5 separate regions of the Homo sapiens genome follow, and regions 1, 2, 3 and 5 are each linked to region 4. The links come from fine-mapping of genetic effects on gene expression. A gene starts in region 4. Each other region holds a variant in brackets. All regions are shown on one strand. Distances are from middle to middle. Region 1 has its middle 26 kb from the start of TXLNB. Region 2 holds the start of LOC102723690 (a long non-coding RNA gene). Region 3 has its middle 37 kb from the start of CITED2. Region 4 holds the start of TXLNB (taxilin beta). Region 5 has its middle 9.1 kb from the start of HECA.

Region 1 (5,108 bases), 26 kb after region 4:
ATATTTATAATATCCCAGGCAAGTTTGAGTTTCAGATTCCCTTTAAGTAGAATATATTATAAAAATTGTGAGAGGCAAGGATGAATATTCAGACAAGGGAGTTTAAAATTCTTCATGAGAATAAAGCAAATGATAGAAGAAAAATAATTTATGCTGAGATGAATAAAATGTATGTGGGCCAGCTTTTTAAAAAATCACAATTACTTTCTTATAAATTTAGAAATAAAGCCATTTAATCAACAGACTTAAAATGGATGTTATTTTAGACACAGAGAACTTATAAAGAGAATTTGGATTATGAAGTTACAAGCCAAAAAGATACAGAATTTAAAATGATACAGATTTCAATAAATAAGAAATGTGAAAACTAAATTATATAATATAGTAATAATAGTAAAACTTCATTAAGTTTAAATAATAAGTAAAAAATGACAGGGAGAAAAAATATTTGGTAAGAATATACAGAGAAGAATGTAAAAATCTTGTTAGAAAATTTCCACTTCTATCTGTGAGGCAGTAGGTTATATCGGCCTAAGCCCTCTCTTCTGACAAGGGACAAAGATTCTTTGCTTGGCTAAGCTTTAGTCAGGGTCCTGAACCTTCTCTTAGGCCTACCTGTGCACTTCCTTATAAAATCCAGTTTTAGAAAAGAACACTATTAAGTCATTTTACCAAGAACCCCCACCTTTAATATCTGATCACCTTTGATATATGATCAGGTTTCTTATCCCTCCCCTCCCACCACAGGTGATGTTTGATCACCCTGGCCTGTCTTCAGCAAGAATCCTGTTAGGTTGGTTTAGTCAGAATTCCCTTACCCCTGATGTTTTCTGCTAGTAATTTTTTTTTTCTTATCACAGACCCTCTACCCTATTTCTTAGCTATAAATTCCCACTTGCCCAGGCTGTATTTGGAATTGAGCCCAATCTTTCATACTACAAGACCCTGTTGCAGTGGTCCCTAAACATATGTTGCTGATCTTGAATAAAGTCTTCCTTACTGTGCTTTAACAAGTATCATTGAACAATCTTTTCTTTAACACAAGAATAACAAAAAAGCCTGTAAAAAGTATTTTTTAAAAAACAGCTTTTGGAGACATCTGAGAACAACTAAGACTGCTGCAATTAATGGTACAAATTCTGGAGTCAGGGGAAATGCATTGAGGTAAACCTCACATTCTTTGTGGGTTGTCCTTTCAAGCCATTTTTCAATATGTAAGTGGCCCAGGTGAGAGGAAAAGCAGAAGGAAAGGCCTAGAACAGTTAAGGCTCACAAGGCTGGGGAGGCAAAGGTTGGAGTTCAATACTAGTCATGTACTTGAGGATCCAAGACTGGAGAAAAGGGAATTGCAGAAAAGTGGGTTGGATATTCTGCAACTCTTTTTTTCCCTCGGGGAATCTGATTATTCCTGAGGTTCCAGTGTGAGAATATAAGCGATAAAGCAGAAAGTGGAAGCTAAGAGGCTGAGAAATCAAGCAGAACTTGAGATAGTTTCACAGTGTTTGAGAGAGACAAAAATTGAGTTCAGACATTTCCAAGGACCTCTTATATTTTAGTTAGTTCAGTCACTGATTGGATCAAGATGTGTAGCTTCTCTGTCTTTTAGAAAAAAAAAGTCATCTCTAAAAGAAGATATTATCCAGTGATCTTGTAACTCATCATACACAATGATTGGCATTAAGTAAAAAATTACCAGACATCCCAAGAGACAGGAAAAAAAATGGGCAAATACTAAAGCAGAAACAATAGATGGCCTATATATTAGAGTTATAAAGACAGAGGTTTTTTTTTTTTTTATTGAAACGGAGTCTCGCTCTGTGGCCCAGGCTAGAGTGCAGTGGCGCAATCTCGGCTCACTGCAACCTCCGCCTCCCAGGTTCATGCCATTCTCCTGCCTCAGCATCCCGAGTAGCTGGGACTACAGGCGCCCGCCACCACGCCCAGCTAATTTTTTGTATTTTTAGTAGAGACAGGGTTTCACCGTGTTAGCCAGGATGATCTCGATCTCCTGACCTTCCCGCCTCGGCCTCCCAAAGTGCTGGGATTACAGGCGTGAGCCACCATGCCCGGCCAAGACAGAGGCTTTTTAATGGTAATAATAGAGTTAAGAAAATAGATTTATAAATATAAAATTTTGCCACAGAACTGGAATCTATAAAAATGATCCAATGAAAGTTATAGTTGAGAAATACAAATAATCAAAATTAAGATCTCATCAGATGACTGAGGCAACAGGATCACTTGAGGCCAGGAATTTGAGACCAGCCTGGGCAACATTGTGAGAATTTTTTAAAAAATTTAAAAAACAGAAGAAAAGATCTCATCAGATGATCTAAACAGCATATTAGACAGTAAAAGAAAGGATTATGGGGCCGGGCACGGTGGCTCACGCCTGTAATCCCACACTTTGGGAGGCCGAGGCAGATGGATCACGAGGTCAGGAGATCGAGACCATCCTGGCTAACACAGTGAAACCCCGTCCCTACTAAAAAATACAAAAAATTAGCTGGGGGTGGTGGCGGGTGCCTGTAGTCCCAGCTACTTGGGAGGCTGAGGCAGGAGAATGGCGTGAACCTGGGAGGCAGAGCTTGCAGTGAGCCAAGATCACGCCACTGCACTCCAGCCTGAGTGACAGAG[T/C]GAGACTCTGTCTCAAAAAAAAAAAAAAAAAAAGAAAAGAAAGGATTATGGAACTGCTAAATAAGAAATATGAAATTAAAAAGATGAAAAATATAAGAGAAGAAGAGATATATGAAAAGTGGTGATAATTCTTACGTATGTGTAATTAGATCCCCAAAAGGAAACGAGAAAGAGAATGAGAGATAAACAATAATTGAAGGGATACTGGCTGAGAAGCTTCCAAAACTGACACAAGATATCAAGTCAAACATTCAAGAATCTCTATAAAACCCAAGCACATCAAGGTACCAAGGTGTGTACCTTGGTAAAACTGCTTAAAACCAAAGACAAAGAGAAAATGTTAAAAGCATCCAGAGGACAAAACACATTATTTCCAAGCAGAAACAAACTGATGAAAGCTAGATGACAATGGAAGACAATGGACTGATATTTTTAGCATACTAACCAACTTAGAATTCTATAAGCAGTGCAAACATCTGAAGGTAAAGACATTTTTTCCAGACAAAATATGAGTGTATTTGTTGCCAATAAATCCACATTAAAATTGATTGATGTAGCAATCTCTATAAATATTAGTTGATATAAATGAATAAACTAAAATGATGAATTCACAAATGGTAGTTAGCCTTTTTTTGAGTTTAAGAGATTAAAGCTTTGTTCAGGATATTAGATTGTCTTCCTTCCTTTTTTTTTTTTTTTTTTTTTGAGATGGAGTCTTGCTCTGTCACCCAGGCTGGAGTGCAATGGCGCGATCTCAGCTCACTGCAACCTCAGCCTGCTGGGTTCAAGAGATTCTCCTGCCTCAGCCCTCCAAGTAGCTGGGACTACAGGCACGCACCATCATGCCCGGCTAATGTTTTGTATTTTCAGTAGAGACGGGGTTTTACCATGTTGGCCAGGCTGGTCTCGAACTCCTGACCTCGTGATCTGCCCGCCTCGGCCTCCTAAAGTGCTGGGATTACAGGCATGAGCACCACACCCAGCCAATGTCTTTCTCCCTTTAAAATTTTTTTTTTTTTTTTTTTGCAGAGATGTGGTTTTGCCATGTTGCTCAGGCTGGTCTCAAAGTCCTGAGCTCAAGCGATCTGCCTGCTTTGGCCTCCTCAAGTTCTGGGATTATAGGTGTGAGCCACTGCACCCATCCTTCCTTTCTTTCTTTTTTTTTTGAGACAGGGTCTCATTCTGTCACTCAGGTTGGAGTGCAGTGGCATGACCACACCTCCTTTGTTAAAGGAGCAATATAAGGCTAGCTGTGGTGGTTTATACCACACCCCAGCACTTTGGGAGGCTGAGCTCAGAAGTCTGAGACCATCCTGGGCAACATAGGGAGAACCCATCTCTACAAAAAAAAATTCAAAAATTAGCTGGGCATGGTGGCATGTACCTGTGTACCAGCTATTTGGGAGGCTGAGGCAGGAGGATCACTTGAGCCTGGGAGGTCAAAGCTACAGTGAGCCATGATTGTGCCATCTGCACTCCAGCCTGGGTGGCAGAGTGAGACCCTGTCTCTAAAAAAATAAATAAGTAAAAGGAGCAACATGAGAACAAGTAAATCCTTTTAAATGAGTATTTCACATGAATTAATAAATGACTATTTATAGTATTTAACAATTACAACAGGAAATGAGACATTTAGAAAGGATTAGCAATACACAGCATAGTGAAGTGGATAAAAAGTAAAAAAAAAGTTATTAAAAATACATTTCTACTACTTTATAAATATTTAGCTTATGGCCATATATATATAAATAACTGAAATATCTCTTAATTTGTAGTGGTTATTGAATATGTATTTTATATCTTGTTTTAAATTATAATTTGTTAAAGTTATTAAAATCCAATGTGGTATTAAATTATTAACTCTTTAAAATAAATATTAGTGCCTGGTTTCTAACTTCTCTTTCCCTTAAATAAAAGTTACTTAAGTAACTTCTAAGTGGTGACTAAGCCTATATGTTTTCTAAAATTTTGTATGACACATAGGTCCTAATTCATCAATTTGGGAGTAGACAATTACATTATATTCTTACTCATATTATCGATTTTGAGCACTAATCTATTCTTCCTTTAGGTTTCTGTTTCCAAATAATTTCTGGAAACCACAAGGAATATTTACAAAATCAGTGAGACAATTGCCTTCCTTGCTAGCTCGTTATGAGTTGATATTTTCAGTCCTAGAGGAACACAACTGTTGCCAGTGAACTCAAGTTTCCTTCACTAAAATATTACCATCACCAAAAATCCAAATTCATGGGACTGGGTTGGAGACGAGACACTGGAAATCAAATGGGTTCCTTTTTATTTCGATTATCATTTACTTAATTTGTAAAACTCCACTTTTGGGGAATTTTCTGTAGGCAGAAAATTTTCTAAGCATATAATCTCATTTTTTTTTTTTACCAACCTAGAGGTGAGCAGTGTGATTGTTCCCATTTTCAAAAGACAAATCTGTGGCAGAGACAAGTTATCAA
Region 2 (5,108 bases), 23 kb before region 4:
GAGAAAGTGGAGCAGAAAAACTATTTGAAGAAATAATGGCTGAAAGAAATTCAAATTTGGTAAAAGACATATAATTACAGATACAAAAAAGCTTAGCAAATACCAAGTAGGGTACATGTGAAAAAAACCACTCCTGGCCTTAAAGCAGTAAAAGTTCTGAAAACGAAAGATCAATACAAAGACCTTGAAAAGGGCAGAGAAAAAGGACATATCACATATGGGGGAACAATAATTCAAATGATTGTTGATTTTCATGAGAAATTTTAAAAGCCAGTATAGTGGCACATTTATTTAAGGCTAAAAGGAAAAAAAAAAAAAAAACCCACGAATAGGTTCTCTCAATGCAGAATTCTATATCCAATGAATTTAGCCTTCAATTAAAAAAAAAATAAAGATGTTTTAAAGATAAAAGGCAACTAAGAGAATTGATTACCAGCAGATTTGTACTATAAGAAATACTAAAAGAAGTACTTCAGGCTGAGGGAAATGACATCAGACAGAAATGTGAAGCTACAGAATGAATAAGAAGTATCAGGAATGGTAAACATCTGGGTAGATAAAAGGGATATAGTTTTGCCTTTAATTTAAGAAGAAATACATATTATTGTTTAAAGTAAAAATTATAACAATGTCTCATCGGCTTTACAAAAGTATATAAATATAATACATATAATGATGATAGCTTAAAGGCTGAGGGAGTAAATTGATCTATTTAGTTGCAGTGTTTCTACATGTTATGTGAAGTAATACAACATTAACTCCAGGAAGACTATGAAAAATTAAGAATGTATATTGTAATCACAGAGCAACTACTAAAGATAATGTGTAGTGTTATAATTTCAAAATACAAGAGATGAAATGTAATTTTTAAATATTCAAATAATCCAAAGGAAGGCAGGAAAAGAACAAGATAAACAAAGCAGAGGTGACAAATAATAAATAATAAAATGGTAGACATATATCAAACCACATCAGTAAGTACATTATATGTTAATGGACTAGTACTGCAATTAAAGGGCAGATACTGTAGGAATGAAAAGAAGTAAGATCCAGCTATATGCTATCTTGAAAGAATGCACTTTAAATATAAAGACCCAGGCTGAAAATGAATGGATGAAAAGAGATACACCAGGCAAACAATAAGAGTAAGAAAACTAGAGTGGCTAAATTGATATCAGATAATGTAGACATCCAGACAAAGATTATTACTGGTCGGGCGTGGTGGCTCACACCTGTAATCCCAACACTTTGGGAGGCCGAGGCGGGTAGATCACAAGCTCAGGAGTTCAAGGCCAACCTGGCCAAGATGGTGAAACCCCGTCTCTACTAAAAATACAAAAATTAGCCAGGCATGGTGGCGGGTGCCTGTAATTTCAGCTACTCAGGAGGCTAAGGCAGAGAATTGCTTGAACCCGGGAGGCGGAGGTTGCAGTGAGCCGAGATTGCACCACCGCACTCCAGCCTGGACGACAGAGCGAGACTCCATCTCACAAAAAAAAAAAAAAAAAAAAAGATTACTAAGGGACATTTCATAAAGGTAAAATCACCAATTCATCAAGAGGACATAATAATCATAAATGTATATACACCTAATATTAATGCTTCAAAGTACATAAAGCAGAAATTGACATAATTAAAATAAGCGGACAATTCCACAATTATATGAAGAGATTTTTAACTCTCATTTCTCAGCAATTGATAAAAAAATTCAAAAAAGGCATAAATGATTTAAAGCTAATTGTTACTTATAGAACACTACACCCAACATCTGAAAAACATTGTTTTGAAGTACATATGGTATCAAGATAAGACCATGTATGATCGGCTATAAAAATTAAATAACACTTCTAAATAATCCCTGGGTCAAAGAAAAAATTAGAAAGAAAATTTGAAAATATTTTGAATTTGAATTCAAATTTCAAATATTGATTTTGACATTTAAATATGCTTGATCTTGGACAACCAATTTGGATTGCTGAGTGTCAGTTTCTTCACCAATAAAGTGGAGATATTAACCTTCACTGGGTTATCATGAAGATTAAATGAAATAATGTATATAAAGCACTTAGCATAACTTCTGGCATAATAATAATACTTAATGTCATTGTTCATAATGAGAAGCCATTACTGAGGGCATATGGGCACACTTACAGGGTCTCCTGCTACTTTGATCATTCTGTCTTTGTTTTTTTGGTGGGGGAGAATCTCTAGCCAGTTGGATGGTATTAATAAGATCTCTCTCTCTCTCTCTTTATTTTCTGAGACATTGCTCTCTGTCACTCAGGTTGGAGTGTAGTGGCGCAATCATAACTTACTGCAGGCTCGAACTTCTGGGCTCAAATGATCCTCCTGCTTCAGCCTCCCAAGTAGCTGGCACTGCAGGAACGTGCCACACTCAGCTAATTTTCCTGATTTTTGGTAGAGACAA[T/C]GTCTTGCTCTCATAAATGTTGCCCAGGCTGGTCTCGAATTCCCAAGCTGAAGTGATCCTCCGGCCTTGGGCTTCCAAAATGCTAGGATTACAGATGTGACCCACTGTGACCAGCTGAACATTCTGTCTTTCAATACTACCCAAGAAGACCACGCTGTATCATTCTACTCTTTATATCTCTTTGTTGATAAATGATCCCACCCTATCTGATTTAATTTTATCTCCTTACTGTGTAACATTACTGACAGACAGTGGATTTACGCAGGCACACAAGAGATTTATGCATCCTTTGAATCCAAACCTTGAGTTGAGGACGATGCTTCCATCCTCAGGCCCCCATTCGGCCTGGGAGTCTGTCTTCAGTACTATTGTTGACAAGACGCCAGTAGCACATCTAAAACCTGCCATTTGAGACTTTGACTTCATCACACTGGTTCTCCATTTCCCAAATATCAAAAAACAATTTGGGAAAATGAGGAACCATGATTCTCTTCTATTTTTCTTCCTAACTCAATTGTACAAATTCAGCAGTGATTTTCATGTACTCTGTTTCTTGAAGTATCTCCTTTTAAACGCTTATAATAATAACTACCTTACAGGAACACTGGTGTCTGATTAATTATTATTTGTCAAAAGATTTAGGATCTTCAGCTGGAAAGGGGATTGGGGATGCACACAGTATCATCTTGGAGAGCTCTGCATCTTGCTATATTGAATGGAGCTAGTGTCTCTGTGTAATCAAATTAACCACACTGCTAGGGCTTACGCTGTAATTAATGAAACCCGTGCAGACCAAATGAAGTGATCAGTCTATTATTTTTAGATTGAATAATTAAACCTGAAGAGCTTCAGTGCTTTTTCCAATAGCTTCCTTTTTTTCAGATGACTATTGACATTTTGGTTCTCAATCTCACTTCACTGTGTCAATTCGGTGTGTGTCCATTTGTCTCATGTCATGCAGAATTCATTATAACACCAAAAATGCTGAATCTTTACAAATGTATTTTTTTAAAAGAACTAAGGCCCACCTTAGAAACAAACTCAACATAATAGAAAGGTAAGGGGAATGGTATGCATTTTATCAAGGGCCTGCACTGTGTCAGGTACTGTGCGGGTACCTTACCTATTCAACTTCATCTAATTTTTTCCCAGCCACACAGTGAAGCTGGTCTAATCTCCATTTTACGGATGAAGAAAGTAGCTCAAGGAGGTAAAATTATTTAAGGTTACAAGCAAGCAAGGGGCAGAGGCAGTATTTGAACCCAAGCCTCTCTGATTCTAAAATTCACACTCTTTCCATGAGTAGCAGAGGCCTGTCTCTGTGCCCCATTCAAGAAATTATGTTATTCTGAGGCATGGGGACATACCTTCAGAGTCTTGTTGTGTCTCTGCAGCTCCCGGCACAGACTCTCCAATTTGCTTCGAGCGAGGATAGCTCTGCTGTGTTCACCTTGTAACTGGTCCTTTTCTTTTTGAATTTGTACCTGTTTCTTTTGGAGGAGCTTTAACTTCTTTTGCTCAGTACGATGTTCATCCAGCTGTACACATGGAGATACAAACATGAAAGAAAATGGCAGGGATCTCCTTGGAGTGGATAGAAAAAAAGCAAACCTAAAGATTACTCTGTGGTTGTTTGGAAACATTTTTTGCTATTATCTCTTCCTCTGGAAGTAAATGAAATTCACAAACGTCACCTTTGTAGTACTTGAAGGTATATAGTTTTTAGAACACAGCATTGATAGGTTTTTCATTATTATTAGTCTCTTTTTACTTTGATCTATTTTTGGATGGTCTAGAAATATTTTTCCTGAGTCTATCTAACCAATATTGAATAGCCAGACAAAATAGAAAGGCATGTCTCAGAATCTGTAAACTGCCAGAGTTCATGACGATGCCTTGCATTGAGGCAATGATCTAAAGTCTGTCTGCTTGGGTTGCATTGAGTTTTCCTAATTCTTCCTTGAAACAAGCTTCTAGCGCTATTTTTAAAAATAGGAAAGAGAAATGCAGCCTCCTGGTAAACAGAAGATGAAGTTCTCTTCTTTATAATGTTGGGCTCTGAGTGTGGATTGTTTATGTGTGGGAAAGGAGAAGAGAAAGTACCCTTCCACTACCTAAGCATTGACGGGTTTTCACCAAAGCATCAGAAATAGCTTCTGCATGATTCAACAGCATGAATAGCAAATATCTGTAACACGCCTTGTTGCTCCCCACCCGCACCCGCTCTGTGCTTATAACAAATAAATCATTCTGCTGGTTTCTGCTGAGCCCAGTTGAACTCTTCTCATGTTCCTCCAGCAGCCACAACTAAAGTACTGTATCAGGACTGCCTTGGAACATGAAACCAACTTACCGCTGTACTTTCCATCTTGGATGCTGAAGTTCTAGGGTAGGGTTGTCAGTAAAATGCAGGACACCCAGTTAAATTTAAATTTCAAATAAATAAGAAATAATTTTTAGCGTAAGTATTAATATATTCCAAATATTGCATGAGACATATTTTTGCCAAAAAGTTATTTGTTGTTTGTCTGAAACGTAAACTTTGTATTTTTATTTGTTACATCTGGCAGCATTATTATGGAGTTGTAGACCTGGTGTGGGGAGTATGGGGATCAACCTCAGAAGCCTCCAGAGAGAGATTGGTGGACTCTAGGAGTGTCGATCTCAGACTGACCATCGC
Region 3 (5,108 bases), 46 kb after region 4:
TCATCTTTCAAAAAGTCACCCTTAAAACGCATCTTGTGTTTCTTTCACTGCTGTGATGATGAAATCTGTCTCAAAAGAAGCATGTCGGTGTTGACTTCATAATCTTAGAGGCTGTAACATACAGGGAAGGCTGTTACTTAGAAACATACTCTCAGAAAGGTTTTTTGGAAGTTTTTAGGGAGGGGGCGAAGAAGAACTAGGGACAGGTAGATGGTGAATAGAATAACCTGAAGCCATGAGTCAAGGTCAACAGCAACAATAAGTCAAAGCAAGATCACTGAACATTGGTGAAAATAAAAAGAAGTGGAATCAGACTACAGAGGAAAATGAGTAAATTTAGTATCCAGAACTACTCTTAATGGGAAGTCCTATTAGCTTGTCTCCCATCAGAGTTAGGTGAAGTAATAATCTCCAAAAGGTGGGGCTGTTACCTCTGCAGGCGTTTAGAACTGGTCTGAACAAATCACCTGCAAGCTTTTTTGTGGTGGAAGAATGCTGTAGAACGGAGCTGTGAAAGCAAGTATAATTTCTTTTCTGACTCCCTCTGACTTTCACTTAATCATGTACAGGCAGTTCAAAAATCCTGCTGCCTCTTTCTTGCCAATTTCAATACAAATTCTCTCTGGCCAGAAAACTGATCATTTGGTATATAACCTTTTTTTTTTTTTTTTGGTTGGTTCCTCAGTTTCTCCACAACATCACCTGACATTCTGCTACATAAATAGCTATAATTTTAAATAAAATGAGTCAAACGCTAGTGTCAGGCCTTTACAAAGGCTCTCTCACCCTTTAAGATCGCTATAATCCCTCTTTTACATAAAAGGCAATAATGTTCAGACTCTAAGCTAGTGAGTTGAAACGCAAACTCTGAACCATCTCATCAGAAAAAAAAAAGAGCATAGGTTTAGAGTCAAATGAACTCCTGTGTGAATTCTGGCTTAGCATGCCTATTTCTGTCCCAATCTATTCTATAATCTCCTTTATCCTTGTAGTGGAATTATTTTAAATTCTATCTTGAGACCCTTGTCTGGGAGCTTATATGATTCATTCCATCATTGCCCAAATGAGATAGACCAGGAGGCTGGATCCTCCTCTTAGTAGGGGTGGATGCTTTTTTAGTGGCTGTAAATGGATCAGTCCATGACTTAATTGTGCATGAAATAGAGATTTTTAAAAATTTTCTATAACCAAATTTAATTTCTGTCATAAATGCTAAATTTCTACCTGGTAATGACAAATTTAATTCTTCTAATTCAGGATAAACCTAGCCAAATTAGGATTTTTAAGACATTGTTTCAGGGTAAAATCATTCAATTTAGGCTTCTTCCCCCAAATTTCAATTAGCCCAAGTGGCATCTAACTTTAGGGAGGTGTTACGAATTAGGTAACCCCAAGTTATTTGCATTTCTTCTTTTCCTGAGAGTGGAAGTAGCAAGGTATAAAGTGTTATAATAATGGCTAGTAATTTGCAAAGAGGTAAGATGATCTTACAGGAGTAAACCAGCTTGCTGGAAATGAGTATTTTCAGTTAAGGGCCAAAATTGTGTAGCACGAGCTCCCAGAAAGCCCCTGGAATTGTGCCAGCAGACACGGCCATGAATTTGGCAGTGGCTGCTGTAGCCGTGAGGCAAGGTAGGCCTTTGCCACAGGATCAAAAGACAGACTGTAATAAGCTATGGATTTTTGGTGCTTTCCTTGTAATTAAAGCTATTAGAGAATCAGAATTTTATTTAGAAGCTTCTTTATTCCAATCAAAAAAGATAGTACATTCAACATTAGGACTTTACTGTCCTAATGAAGAGAAACTTCATTTGCTCTAAGAACACTGTAAGATGGACAATTTTGGAAACATATGGAATTCTCCCAAAGTGGCCAAATCATCATCGGTGAACTAGTGCCAGTTTGTGAGATGTGTGCAAGCATTTGGATAATAATAAAGAAGCAAGTGTCTGGACTGGCAGAAGTGCACACTTGAACTGAGATTACCCCTGGAGAAATGATCATGGTCAGTTGAATGTGTTGGTTCTGCATTTTGTGTCTTGAGCCACTAACCAGTGGCTGGCCACCCTTGACAAGAGACTTGATAATTTGTGGCCCTCAGCAGATAGAATTTTTGGATATTCTGTCTTTCATATTAACTGTCAGTTGTAAACACAGAACAGAGGAAAAATGGACCTTGTACGTTTTTTTGTTGGTGACTTGAAGTAAATTTCATTTACTGGGGAACATAAGCTTGACAAAATTTTTATTAACAGCTTTATTGAGGCCAAATTGACATACAATAAAATGCACATAATTAAACTATAAACCTTGAAAAGCTTTGACATTTGTATACACCCAGCATAATAATCAAGATAATGAAAATATGCATCATAAGTTTCCTCATGTCCGTTGGTAATACCCCCTTCTTCTCCCTGCTCCCCATACCTCTGAGTCCCCAAGCAACCACTGATCTGTTTTCTAACACTGTAGATTAGTTGGTGTTCTAGAATTTTACATACATGGAATATAGTGTGCATTCTGAGAAAAAATATATTTTTTTTCGCTCAGCATAATTTTGAGATTCTTCCATGTTTTGTGTGAGTCAATAGTTCACTTTTTGCATTGATTTGTATTCTGTTATATGGGCATACCAAAAATTGTTTATCCACTCACCTGAACATAAACATTGAAGCCTTCTTTCCCTAGGTTTCTGCTGTTATAAATAAAGCTGCTATAAATATTCATCTACAAGTTTGTGTGTATAGATACATACTTTGTTTTCCTTTAAGTAAATATCTAGGAGTGAAATTGCTGCGTCATATGGCAGGGATATAATTTCCTTTTTAAGAAACTGTCAGTTGCCCCATCGTGCAATGTGGTG[C/T]GGCAACCAAGCCAGGGCTGCTCCATGAAGAGGAAGCAAAGACGGCTTGCCAGGACAGTGATGGAGAAGAACAAAAAGGCAGGATCGCCTCAATAAAAGGAGGGTGGCTTTGCCAGTTTGTAATTTAAAATACTGAAGCACAGTCTTTGAAGCAACAAGGAAATGCACACTATGCCAAGGAAGATTACAACGAAGCTTATAACTATTAAACAAAAGCCACAGATATGTGCCCTAAAAATGCTAGCTATCATAGTAATAGAGCAGCTACATTGATGATACTTGGAAGGTTCTGCGAAGCCCATGGAGATACTTTCACAGTGAAATTGGATGATGGTTTCTTCTGGGGACATCTACGAGAGGGCAAGTGCCACCTCTCTCCAGGGAATGCCATGGCAGCACATTGCAGTTTTCAGAGAGCCCTAGAACTGGATCATAACAATGCTCACTCACAACAGGAGTTCACAAATGCTAATGCAGTCAAGGAATAGGAGAAAGTCATAGAAACAAGTTTTGAGAAGTGGGCTTTTCAGAAGGTTGTTTTCTGCATGGACTATGCCCTAGAATTTGCCCCTGTCTGCCATCACTTCAATATCCCTCAAAGCAGAATGTTTAGCAATGCTGGGTCGTTATCCAGAAGCACAGTCTGTGGCCAGTGACATTTTATGAACGGATTCCACCAATGTGGATGCTCTGTATGTACGCGGACCTTGCCTTTATTATGAAGATTGTACTGAGTAGGCAGTTGTTCAGTTTTTTGTACAGGCTCTCAGAGTGGTTCCTGACCATGAGAAGGCCTGCCTTGCGTGCAGAAATGCCAGAGCACTTAACGCAAAGAAAGAAGACTGGAATAAAGCGTTTAGGGAAGGAAATTACAAACTAGCTGATGAACTGTACGCAGAACCCCCGGGGTAGACCCCGACAACATAAAAGCAATTGCTAAACTCTACTGTAACCGGGATATGGTTAATTCCGAGCTTGGGAAACTAGATGATGCAATAGACAGCTGCACAAATGCAGTGAAGCTCATGACACTTACATAAAAGCCTACTTGAGAAGAGCTCAGTGTTTCTTGGACACAGAACAGTATGAAGAAACAGTGCGAGGCTATGAAAAAAGTATATCAGATGGAGAAAACAAAAGAATACAAACAGCTCCTAAAAAATGCACAGCTGGAACTGAAGAAGAGTAAGAGGGATAATTACTACAAGGTTCTGGAAGTGACAAGAATGCCTCTGAGGACAAGATCAAGAAAGCTTATTGGAAACAGGCCTTGAAGTACCATCCACATCGTCATGATGGAGCCAGCGCTGGGGTTCAAAAGGAGGAGGAGAAGATCAAGGAAGTGGCGAGGTCTTTATCATCCTCTTTGATTCCAAGAAAACGATTCATTATCACAGTGGGCAGGACCTGGATAAGGAAGACATAAATTTGGGTGATTTTGATGCAAACAATATCTTCAAGGTATTCTTCCGCGGTCCTACGGGCTTCAGCTGTGAAGCATCTGGTCCAAGGATTTTCTTTCTTCGATTGGGCTCATGAAAGGCAACCATCCAGAATCCAGAAAATGCAGAGTCGCTCAGTTTAAATGTAATCAGCAGATCATTTCTATTAAGAGAGGAATATTTAAATCTCAAACCATAATTTGTCTGCCTCTCCTGTAGATCTATCAGTTTTTTGCTCAATGTATTTTATTATTAGGTGCATAAATGTTTAGATTTGTTTATGACCTTTTATCATTATGAAATAAACTTGAAAAATCCCATGTAATATTGTTGGCTGTGAAATCTATCATGTCTGGTAGTAATATAGTCACTACAACTTTCTTATAGTTAAGGTTAGCTAGATTATCTTTTTCTGTCTTTTAACATCTAACGTGTGTGTGTGTGTGTGTGTGTGTGTGTGTGTGTGTGTGTAAATGAATAACACCAAAAACAGTTACTTTGAGAAAATCAGTGAAATTGGTCAATCTCTGGCTAGACTGATCAAGAAGAAAGAAAATATATATGGAGAGAGAGTACATTTCTTATATGCAGCATATAGTTTGGTCTTCTGTTTTTTTCTTTTCTTTTCTTTTCTTTTTTTTTTTGAGACGAAGTTTCACTCTTGTTGTCCAGGCTGGAGTGCAATGGCGCGATCTCAGCTCACCACAACCTCCACCTCCTGGGTTCAAGTAATTCTCCTGCCTCAGCCTCCCAAGTAGCTGGGATTACAGGCATGTGCCACCATGCCCAGCTAATTTTGTATT
Region 4 (5,108 bases):
GTCACGTACCCCCTGCTTGCTCAATCAATCACAACCCTCTCACGTGCACGCACTTAGAGTTGTGAGCCCTTAAAAGGGACAAGAAATGCTCACTCAGGGAGCTCGGCTCTTGAGACAGGAGTCTTGCTGACGCTCCCGGCCGATTAAACTGCTTCCTTCTTTAACTGGGTGTCTGAAGGGTTTTGTCTGCGGCTTGTCCTGCTGCATTACAATTATTAAAGTAGGGACAGTGGAAAGTTGTTTTTCCAAATCAAGTCACACTGCTGGCATATTTTTGGTTTTGATCTTCAGTTTTCAGTAGCATTCCTTATTATTCACATTAAGAAAGTAATTCATGCTATTTTTCTTTGTGGCCATATTTGTCATTTTGCTTACACTAGTCAGTTTGTGTTACCATTTTCCTGTATAATTCTATGTAGATTAACAATCACTGGGGGTACATGACTGTATATATTTAAAATGTTTAAATATAAAGTGGTATTAGTTTTCTTTCAAAGTTAAAATATTTAATAGAAGAGCCATTGAATTTATTTAAATAACTCATAAGAATAACATCTCTAAGCTCTATTTGATCCATAAATCAATATTTTGCTTAGTGTGAATATTTTGATGTAAATGCATTATTACACTGGATAGAGGAGACATTTCTCACTTTTCTGGCATTTTCTTTTTCAGATAAGCAACACGAATGCTTTTTTTGAGGCTTAAACTGGCATCATTTTTAGATTAAGACAGGGAATGAGGGAAGGTATAAATAAATAGACAAAGTAGTATGGAAACACGGGCCAGGTGCTGTGGCTCATGTCTGTAATCCCAGCACTTTAGGAAGCCGAGGCGGGTGGATCCTTGAGGCCAGGAGACCAGCCTGGCCAACATGGTGAAACCCTGTCTCTACTAAAAATACAAAAATTAGCCAGGTGTGGTGGCGGGCACCGGTAGTCCCAGCTACTTGGGAGGCTGAGGTATGAGAATTGCTTGAACTTGGGAGGCGGAGGCTGTAGTGAGCCAAGATCGTGCCACTGCACTCCAGCCTGGGTGACAGAGCAAGACTTCGTCTCAAAAACTAAACAAAACAAAAGCATGATGATACTTATAACAACAATTCCTTAAATTTCTATAATACTCTTTTATTCCAATATATAAACCAATTTTTTAAAAGAGAAAAACAGATTACAACTTTCTCTTCTAAGTCAGGAAGCTCTAGAAAAACTTAATGATTTTTAAGAAGTAGCAATGTTTCATAAACAAGGAGGAGACCAACTCGAGAAATAATTCAGCAATAATAAGGGCCCTTAGGAAAGGGTGAGAGATGGTACTGAGTCAGAGATTCCAGGGTTTCTGACTATTACCACTTCTAGAGTTGCAATAGATTTGGTTTAGGCCTTTAAGTTATGGTGCATTTTATTTGTAAATAATATTTAACAGTGATGCTGCTAAATAGCAGCATAAAAATGTGGCAAGATCCTCATAATTCACAGGTTTTGCTGTTGTGGTAACATGAAAGTGAAAACAAAAGCATACTGTTCTACAACTGCACAGCTTCCTTTTCCTGTTCTCAGGGCAGTAGATGTCAATTGAATGCTCAGACACCAACAAGAACAGAAAATTCAACACACAGATGTTGCCACTGACTTGTGATGCTCACCAAACACTCATAACTTAGAGGAAGTACTTTTTTTCTTTCACTGGTTTGAATTCACCAACTTGATTATCAAATAATGCAGCAGTTTCATTATTTTCATCACTGGGATTTCTTTTCCTGACCTCACTTGTTGATTGCACTCATCTATATATAACTTAGGCCTCCCCTGAACACGGAGAAAGACACACGGCACCTGCTGTCCAGCCAGAAGTTATTTTAAGCTATTCTAAAATGAGTCATGCCGTTTAGCACTTCATCCTTGAAAATCAAGAGAATCGTTTTTCAGTCAAATTGAAAACAGTAAACATTTAGTGGCTTAAATCCATACATGGGTTTTAAAGTCGGGGAGACTATCTTAGGATGAAATAAAATCTCAAGTAAAATGAACTTCAAAATAATTAATTTAAGATAAGCTGTCCATAGGAGTTTTACTTCGGTTAGTCTAAATGCAAGTGGCTGTTTGTATTTGATTTATTCTTCATGAGATGCCACAATCATTGATTTTTTAAATTCTTAATTCCATGGCTATTCTTTAAACTCCTGTTCCACATTTACTTTAAAACAGAACAGTCATTATAAAGCCCAGGACAATTCAATTCCCAAAAGTAGCCTCAAGACAAGTTAACAAGAGGGAAAAAAACAAAGTCAGAGAACTTTGTTACTTTTCAATCATCCATTTTATATTATGTGGCAAAGAAATTATTTCTAACTTTTATCTTATATAAACTTTATTGCCTTATTTTCCCCTCCCCAGGGAGAGAACTTTTCACTTGTGTTGGCTATTCCAGATGACTATCACAGACACATCCCTCCCTAAGCAACACATTTTATTTATAAATACAACAATGAAAAGTTCTCCAACAGTTCACTGGCAATCTCAAAGTTGCAAGTTTCGAACACCACAAACCGCACCCTATACCTTCTCACAGGGCTTGGGGGAGTGTTTGTCATACTTACCAGAAGGCAAGAAGCTAAGCAAGAAGAGAGAGGAGAGGAAGGAGGCAGGAAAAAGCAAGTCAGAGCTGCAGCAACAGCAGGAGAGGGCGGGCTGGCTGTGTTCTTACAAGGGAGAGAGAAACCCAATACACACACACACACATACACACGTGCACGCACGCGCGCGCACACACACACACACACACACACGCCACAGGCACTGATGGAGGCAGCAGTCTGGAGGAGGTGGGGGTAGGGAAAGGAACATCATATGACACAGCAAGGGGAAAATACACCCAAGCTTCCCTAGCTGTTGCCAGGGGAAATACCTTAGCAGAGAGAAGCAGCTGGAAGATCTCATTAGACTCTCCATGTTTTGTTTGTCCTTTCGGAAATTTAAACTCTGAGTATATTACCCCCGTTGCAAATGCAGTCTTTCACCATTGTTGTCCTTTTTGGGTAGAGATCAGTTTTTCTTACTTCTTGGGTTATCTCCAGTGTGGTGGAAGATTCATCTTCTTTTTCTTCTTCTTCTTGCACTAGCTTAATTAGTGTCAGGTTTCTTACAGGAATCATGGAAAAAGAAAAACAATGGCATAAGAACAGGGAGGTGGTGGAACCATTTTAATTCTGATGTCATTGTTTGGTTTGTTTGCAAAGTTTGAAATAAACATGTAGATGGTGATTTTGGAGCTGAACTGAGTATAATCTTCATGCACGTGGTAATTGGTGTGACCTTGGAGCACAGTCTTTCCCAGGTAACTCTTCCCATCTCAAACAAACCCTCAGGGAAGCAGTCTGCTTTTTCTTCCTTAGTTGGTGGCTTTCCCACATTTTGTAAATCCTCAACATGCTCCTTGATCCTCCTCAGAAAAAGAAATTCCTTCTGATTCACCATAAAATGCCTGTCTATTAATTTACATCCATTTGCCTTTTATTTTTCTTTCTGGAGCTTGTGTTCCCATACTTCCAAAGCAGATTCCTCCATCGGTTTCTGCTCTGGGGACAGGCTAGGCATAGTGGCATCCCTTGTGGGAGGCAGAATAATGCCACCCAAAAGATCTCCACGTCCTACTCCCTGGAACCTGTGAATATGTTTCTTTACATGACAAAAGAGACTTTGCAGATGTGAGGAAGGATCCTGAGGTAGGGAGGTTATCTTGAACTACTGGGTGGGTTCAATGTAATCATAAGGGTATTTATTTATTTATTTATTGAGACAGAGTCTCGCTCTGTCACTCAGGCTGGAGTGCAGTGGTGCAATCTCAGCTCACTGCAACCTCCCGGGTTCAAGCGATTCTCCTCCCTCAGCCTCCCAAGTAGCTGGGATTACAGGCGCCTGCCACCACATCCAGCTAATTTTTGTATTTTTAGTAGAGACGGGGTTTCGCTGTGTTGGCTAGGCTGGTCTCGAACTCCTGACCTCATGATCCGCCCACCTCGGCCTCCCAAAGTGCTGGGATTATAAGCGTGAGCCATTGCACTCAGCCTCATAAGGGTCTTTATAAATGAGGGAGGAAGGCAGTAGGATTGGAGGCAGAAAAGGAGATTTGATGACCTCAGCATAGGTCAGGAAGCTTCTAGAAGCTGGGAAAGGCAAGGAAACAGATTATACTCTAGAGCCTCCAGAGGGATGCAATCCTGCGACATTGATCTTAGATCAAAGAAATTCGTTTTGGATTTCCGACCTCCAGAAATATAAAATAGCAAACTTATGTTATTTTTAAGCTGCTAAATTTGTGATAAGATGTTATGGCAACAAAAGGAAATGAAAACATCCCACCCCCAGTTTTGTCCTACTTATTCTCTGAGTTTAGGGGAGGCATAAGTTATATATAGATGAGTGCACCCAACAAGCAGAAGTCAGGATAAAGAAATTCCAGTGTTGAAGACAATGAAGCTGTTCACTATATTATTTGATAATTAAGTTAGTGAATTAAAATTGATGAAAGAGAAAAGCACTTTCTTCTAAATTAATGAATACTTGGTGAGTGCCACAAATTGGGTGGCATTCCATCCTGGATTGTAGCAAACTGACCCGATCACATCTCTTAGTAAATATAAACAAGTCAGTGCTTTTCAAATTTAAATAATGTATAGACTCACTTAACAGAATAATTTAAATAATGTGGAAATTATTTGAAGGATTATATTATTATTTGAACCTACATGTACTAAAATGAAAATAGGATAAATTCCTTATGCTTACAGTAGTTACATAAATTTTAAAATGTATACATTTTAAAGCCTACAAAATCAATAAATGCGACTCAAATTAATAACACTACTTTTATGTGACAGATATTGTTTTGCTGAACTTAAATTGCTGCTTGCAACATGAATACTCTATTGACTGCTGGGTTTTTTGAGTTTCTGGTACTCTTCTACAATGTGGTTTGGGAATTTCCTCAACACTTGATTCATTCAAATTATTACATAGTTTTTATTCATATGGCCTGCTATGATTTCATGGGGCTCTCATTTGATACGGCTGCATCATTTACTGCTTGCTATGGTCTGAATGTTTGTG
Region 5 (5,108 bases), 170 kb before region 4:
GCCTTGCATCCCAGGGATGAAGCCCACTTGATCATAGTGGATAAGCTTTTTGATGTGCTGCTGGATTCGGTTTGCCAGTATTTTATTGAGGATTTTTGCATCGATGTTCATCAGGGATGTTGGTCTAAAATTCTTTTTTTTTGTTGTGTCTCTGCCAGGCTTTGGTATCAGGATGATGCTGGCCTCATAAAATGAGTTAGGGAGGATTCCCTCTTTTTCTATTGATTGGAATAGTTTCAGAAGGAATGGTACCAGCTCCTCTTTGTACCTCTGGTAGAATTCGGCTGTGAGTCCATCTGGTCCTGGGGTTTTTTTTGGTTGGTAGGCTCTTAATTATTGCCTCAATTTCAGAGCCTGTTATTGGTCTATTCAGGGATTCAATTTCTTCCTTGTTTTGGAGTGTGTATGTGTCCAGGAATTTATCCATTTCTCCTAGATTTTCTAGTTTATTTGCATAGAGGTGTTTATAGTATTCTCTGATGGTAGTTTGTATTTCTGTGGGATCGGTGGTGATATCCCCTTTATCATTTTTTAATGCGTCTATTTGATTCTTCTCTCTTTTCTTCTTTATTAGTCTTCTTAGAAGTCTATCAATTTTGTTGATCTTTTCAAAAAACCAGCTCCTGGATTCATTGATTTTTTGAAGGGTTTTTTGTGTCTCTATCTCCTTCAATTCTGTTCTGATCTTAGTTATTTCTTGCCTTCTGCTAGCTTTTGAATGTGTTTGCTCTTGCTTCTCTAGTTCTTTTAATTGTGTTGTTAGGGTGTCCATTTTAGATCTTCCTGCTTTCTCTTGTGGGCATTTAGTGCTACAGATTTCCCTCTACACACTGCTTTAAATGTGTCCCAGAGATTCTGGTATGTTGTGTCTTTGTTCTTATTGGTTTCAAAGAACATCTTTATTTCTGCCTTCATTTTGTTATGTACCCAGTAGTCCTTCAGGAGCAGGTTGTTCAGTTTCCATGCAGTTGAGCAGCTCTGAGTGAGTTTCTTAATCCTGAGTTCTAGTTTGATTGCACTGTGGTCTGAGAGACAGTTTGTTACAATTCTGTTCCTTTACATTTGCTGAGGAGTGCTTTACTTCCAACTATGTGGTCAGTTTTGGAATAAGTGCTATGTTCACCTAGAACTTTCAAGTCTTGATTCATAGTAGATTAATTTTGTCCTTTAAAAGAGAACAAACCAACATAGCAAATATTGGGTTATTTTTTCCACTTACAGGCTTTACTAGAATAGAAAATGCTAGCAATTTATTTGTGGGTACTGAAACTTATGGTATGATCTAAACAGAATAAGATGGTGGGATGGCTTTTCTTTAAGATCAAATTTTTGTCTTTAAGTACTATGATTTTTTTTTCCCTTTAAAATGTCTCCTATAGTGATCCTTTTCCTCGGTTCTCCTTTTAACTCCCTAACTGCAAATTCTCATCGTCTCATCCCAACGATGATACAATATATTTTCGGCTGGCTTCCTTGTCACCACTTTTCCTATCAAATGTATCCTGAATGTTACTATCAGAGTATTCTTCCAAAACGATGTTTTCATCACATCATTCTTATCTAGTAACTTACAATAACTTCTTAGAGCTGGACAAATCAACTTCAAACTTGGGCAAGGCATTGCTTCTCATAATCTCCTCCCCACCGGCTCCCAGCTTTGTACACCAGAGTGCGCTCTGTTGCAATCTTAGCATCCTGCATGGGTCCCTGGTACAAACTGTCCCTTTAAGGTATCTGTATCTGCATGCAACAGGAAGTGGGGTGTGGTTTGTTCTGGGATGAGACTACAGTTGTATGCTGAAAAGAGTTTATCCTTGACCTAGAACTAGTACTGCTTTTAGAAAAAAAAATCTTGTTTACCGTTAAAAAGGAGAAAGTTAAATAGCACTTACAGTTAAAAAGAAAAAAAGGCAAATAGCAACAGACAAAGAATATAAAATGTAAATGCTCCTGGTAATAACAACCACTATTTATTGAGAGCTTACTATGCGCTAGGCCCTACACATACATTATGAGTCTTAACTCTGAAATAGATACCATTATCCCCATTTCACAAATATCTTGTCCAAGATCACACAGCTAGCAAGCCAAAACTGCAACTCGGAAAGTCTGGCTCCGTACACACGCCCCTAACCAC[A/G]AAACTATAATAACTCTTCATTGGATCTAAAGCTGGCATCTACCCTGAAACCTGAGAAGTGCCTGCTCTAGGAAATAACAAATGTTTTCTGCTTATATGCTAGAAGGAATTTCCTCTATCTTGAAGGGAAAGGTTTGTTTTTTTGTTTTGTTTTGTTTTGTTTTTTTAACAAATGCACACTGTAGTGTAGGTCCAAACAATACACAGTGGTACTCTTATCACCCTGGCTTCCACTTTTGAGCAGCTCCTTTAGGTATTGATCAGGTGTTTCCTCTTACAAAGAAACCCCACAGATTACCAAGGGCAATGTTTTAACCCAAACCAGACCATGGGCCACAATATTACAAATTGGAGAGTGTGGTAGGATTGGTTTGGAGTAGAGTCCATGCTGTGATCCTCTGTGGGAGACTGTTGGCTAAACCCAACTTGGCAACTTTAATGGTGCAAAAAAATGGCCCAAACCAGGAAGGCTGCAGAATCAGTATGTCAGCACTTAAAATAGAATTTTCTAGTAGAAATGTTAACACAATATAGAAGTAGAGAACTATGACTAGGTGATCAACAGCATATAGGAAGTGGCCATACCTAGAATTTCAGGCATAAGAAGATCTTGTACATGGGATGTTGCCTCCGTTGCCTACTATAATATAACAATTTAATCATTTCCCATTGGCTCATAAGAGCTGGTTGTGCACATCTCTTCCCAACCTTGAGTTCAGTGGCTTGTGCTGATAACCTAAAACTGGCCACAGTAGGAGTATTTATACCATGGGCAACTAGAAATGCTACAAATCAGAGTTCCCTCCCACATCCCTTCCCAGCCAGTTTAGCAACAGCACAGCACTAAAACTACCCCAAGAGTTGCTTAAAACAGCAACTATTTATTATTTCTCACAATTCTGTGGGTTGACTAGGCTCATCCGGGCAATCTGTTCCATGTGGTAAAGCTGTGGTGACTCATACAGCTATATTCAGCTAAGATAGGATTTCTCAAGCTTGGCACTAGATTCGGGGCTGGATAATTGTTTGTTGTTGCGTCCTGTGCATTGCAGGCTGTTGAGCAGCATCTCTGGCCTCAACCTACTAGATGCTAGAAGTGACAACCAAAAATATCCCTGGACATTGCTAAATGTCCCTGAAGGCAAAATTGCCAGGGGTTGAGAACCACGAAGCTAAGAGCTTGGCTGGGGCTGGAACACAAGTATCCTTTCTCATCTTCCACATGTCCATGATCTTTTATTAAAGAAAAATGTTATTCATGACATTTGTTACAGATGGTAATGCAAACTTTTCAGGGGAACTACTACCATGGAGTTTTGTATTAGGAGAGAGAGATTGGGCTCAACTCCAAATACAACAAGGAAAAGTGGGGATTTGTAGCCAAGGAGCAGGGGTGGGAGTCAGTGGATAGACAGTTACTAAGAGGAAACATCAAGGTTAGGGGGATTGTGGCCAAACTGACTTGAGAGGATTCTTGCTGAAGGCAGGCCAGGCTGATCTCATACGGAAAGTTGGGGATTTTTATGAAATTGACCCAGCAAGATTCTTGCTAAAACGGAACTAAGCAGGCCAAGGACGAGGCAAGGTTGGGGCCTAGTCAAAAAGAGGAATCAGAGGGGCCTGACTCAAGTTTGGTCAAGGACGGAGTCTTTGTCACCCTCTCCATGTGGCCTCTCATCATTCCATAGTCTGGCTCAAGTTTCTTTGCAGCATGGTGGCTGGCTTTTGGGAGAGCAAAAGCAAATTTAGGGTCCAGACTAGAGCAATTGCACTTTTGCTGCATTTCTAATTGGTCAAAGCAAGTCACAAGGCCAGGTTAGATTTAAGGGGAAGGCAAACAGACTCCACCTTTTGAAGAGAGGAGTAGCACATTTGTGTTCATCTTTAATCCATGCAGTGCTATGTTTGCATTTAAGGACTTAGAACAAATATTCTGCAGGAGGAAAGGAAATCTTAAGACAAAATTCTATTCGAGATTGATTGAAATGAACTCCAGAACCATACATAGCAGTACTTATTACTGGACTAAATGTGAAACTGATTGTTCATGTGATGGTAAATTTTTGTTACCTATAACAATTACAGCATATTTGAAGTTTCTTAAAATGGAAGCAATACCATGAATGTTCAACTGTTTACATCATTTAGAATTAGTACTTAATGTATTATATCTTCTGACAGTTTCCGTTTTATAGTTTTGAAGATATTTCCCAAGAAGTTTTCTAAAGAACTGGTTGTTTACAAGAGGGATCCAGTATCTGTCTTTTCACCATTGTATCAATACTCACCTGATTGCTAGTGCCAGAAGTAGATTGTTTTCTTTTCTTTTTCTTCTTCCTTATTTTTTTTGAGATGGAGTCTCACTCTGTCGCCCAGGCTGGAGTGCAGTGGCACCATCTGGGCTCACCACAACCTCCGCCTCTCAGGTTCAAGAGATTCTCCTGCCTCAGCCTCCCGAGTAGCTGGGATTATAGGAGTGCACCACCACACCCAGCTAATTGTTATATTTTTGGTAGAGATGGCGGGGGTGGTTCACCATGTTGGCCAGGCTGGTCTCAAACTCCTGACCTCAAGTGATCTGCCTGTCTCAGCCTCCCAAAGTGCTGGGATTACAGGTGTGAGCCACTGTGCCCAGCTAGAAGTAGATTTTTGTTGTTGTTGTTCCAAGGCATTATTTCCCCTAAAAATATTCAGCAGGACTCTACTTCCGTAGAATGTTAATAAGCATTACATGTAAAAGGATTTATAGGTTATATACATTTGGGAAATTCTAAGTTGAGAGTAAACAGGTTTCTTTACTGCTGGACTTTTAGGATCTTTACTATGCTAATATATATTGTGACTCATACAATATACAGTGTTTCCTAGACTTATTTTACCACAGAAATAGAGGCACGTCTTATATAACTAGTGTTCCTCAGGATATTCTTGGTAGAAATCATTCCAAGTAGAAATAAAGGAGGAAGCTGAA

What was found.
Region 1: its variant is fine-mapped to the expression of TXLNB in whole blood (TOPMed, PIP above 0.99).
Region 2: its variant is fine-mapped to the expression of TXLNB in whole blood (TOPMed, PIP 0.99).
Region 3: its variant is fine-mapped to the expression of TXLNB in monocytes (TOPMed, PIP above 0.99). The same link has a PIP of 0.9 or more in monocytes after LPS, monocytes after Pam3CSK4 and whole blood.
Region 5: its variant is fine-mapped to the expression of TXLNB in amygdala (GTEx, PIP 0.98).

Annotation. Positions count from the first base shown.
Region 1 is chr6:139,315,619-139,320,726 of GRCh38, forward strand. It overlaps a transcript of TXLNB not described here. Among named protein-coding and RNA genes, the nearest start is that of TXLNB, 26 kb to the left of the region's middle. The variant T/C (reference allele first, on the strand shown) is at 2,638.
Region 2 is chr6:139,266,661-139,271,768 of GRCh38, forward strand. It overlaps TXLNB (taxilin beta), which reads right to left. Exons shown (of 10, transcript NM_153235.4): 4 at 3,796-3,966. It overlaps LOC102723690 (a long non-coding RNA gene), which reads left to right and starts at 4,676. Exons shown (of 5, transcript NR_197427.1): 1 at 4,676-4,889; 2 at 4,999-5,108. The variant T/C (reference allele first, on the strand shown) is at 2,429.
Region 3 is chr6:139,335,185-139,340,292 of GRCh38, forward strand. It overlaps the pseudogene LOC100129844. Among named protein-coding and RNA genes, the nearest start is that of CITED2, 37 kb to the right of the region's middle. The variant C/T (reference allele first, on the strand shown) is at 2,864.
Region 4 is chr6:139,289,322-139,294,429 of GRCh38, forward strand. It overlaps TXLNB (taxilin beta), which reads right to left and starts at 2,677. Exons shown (of 10, transcript NM_153235.4): 1 at 2,600-2,677. The region is part of intron 4 of LOC102723690 (a long non-coding RNA gene); the gene reads left to right. RefSeq lists enhancers at 1,392-1,451, 1,652-1,901 and a silencer at 1,511-1,805.
Region 5 is chr6:139,123,386-139,128,493 of GRCh38, forward strand. No RefSeq gene overlaps it. Among named protein-coding and RNA genes, the nearest start is that of HECA, 9.1 kb to the right of the region's middle. RefSeq lists an enhancer at 3,247-3,748. The variant A/G (reference allele first, on the strand shown) is at 2,138.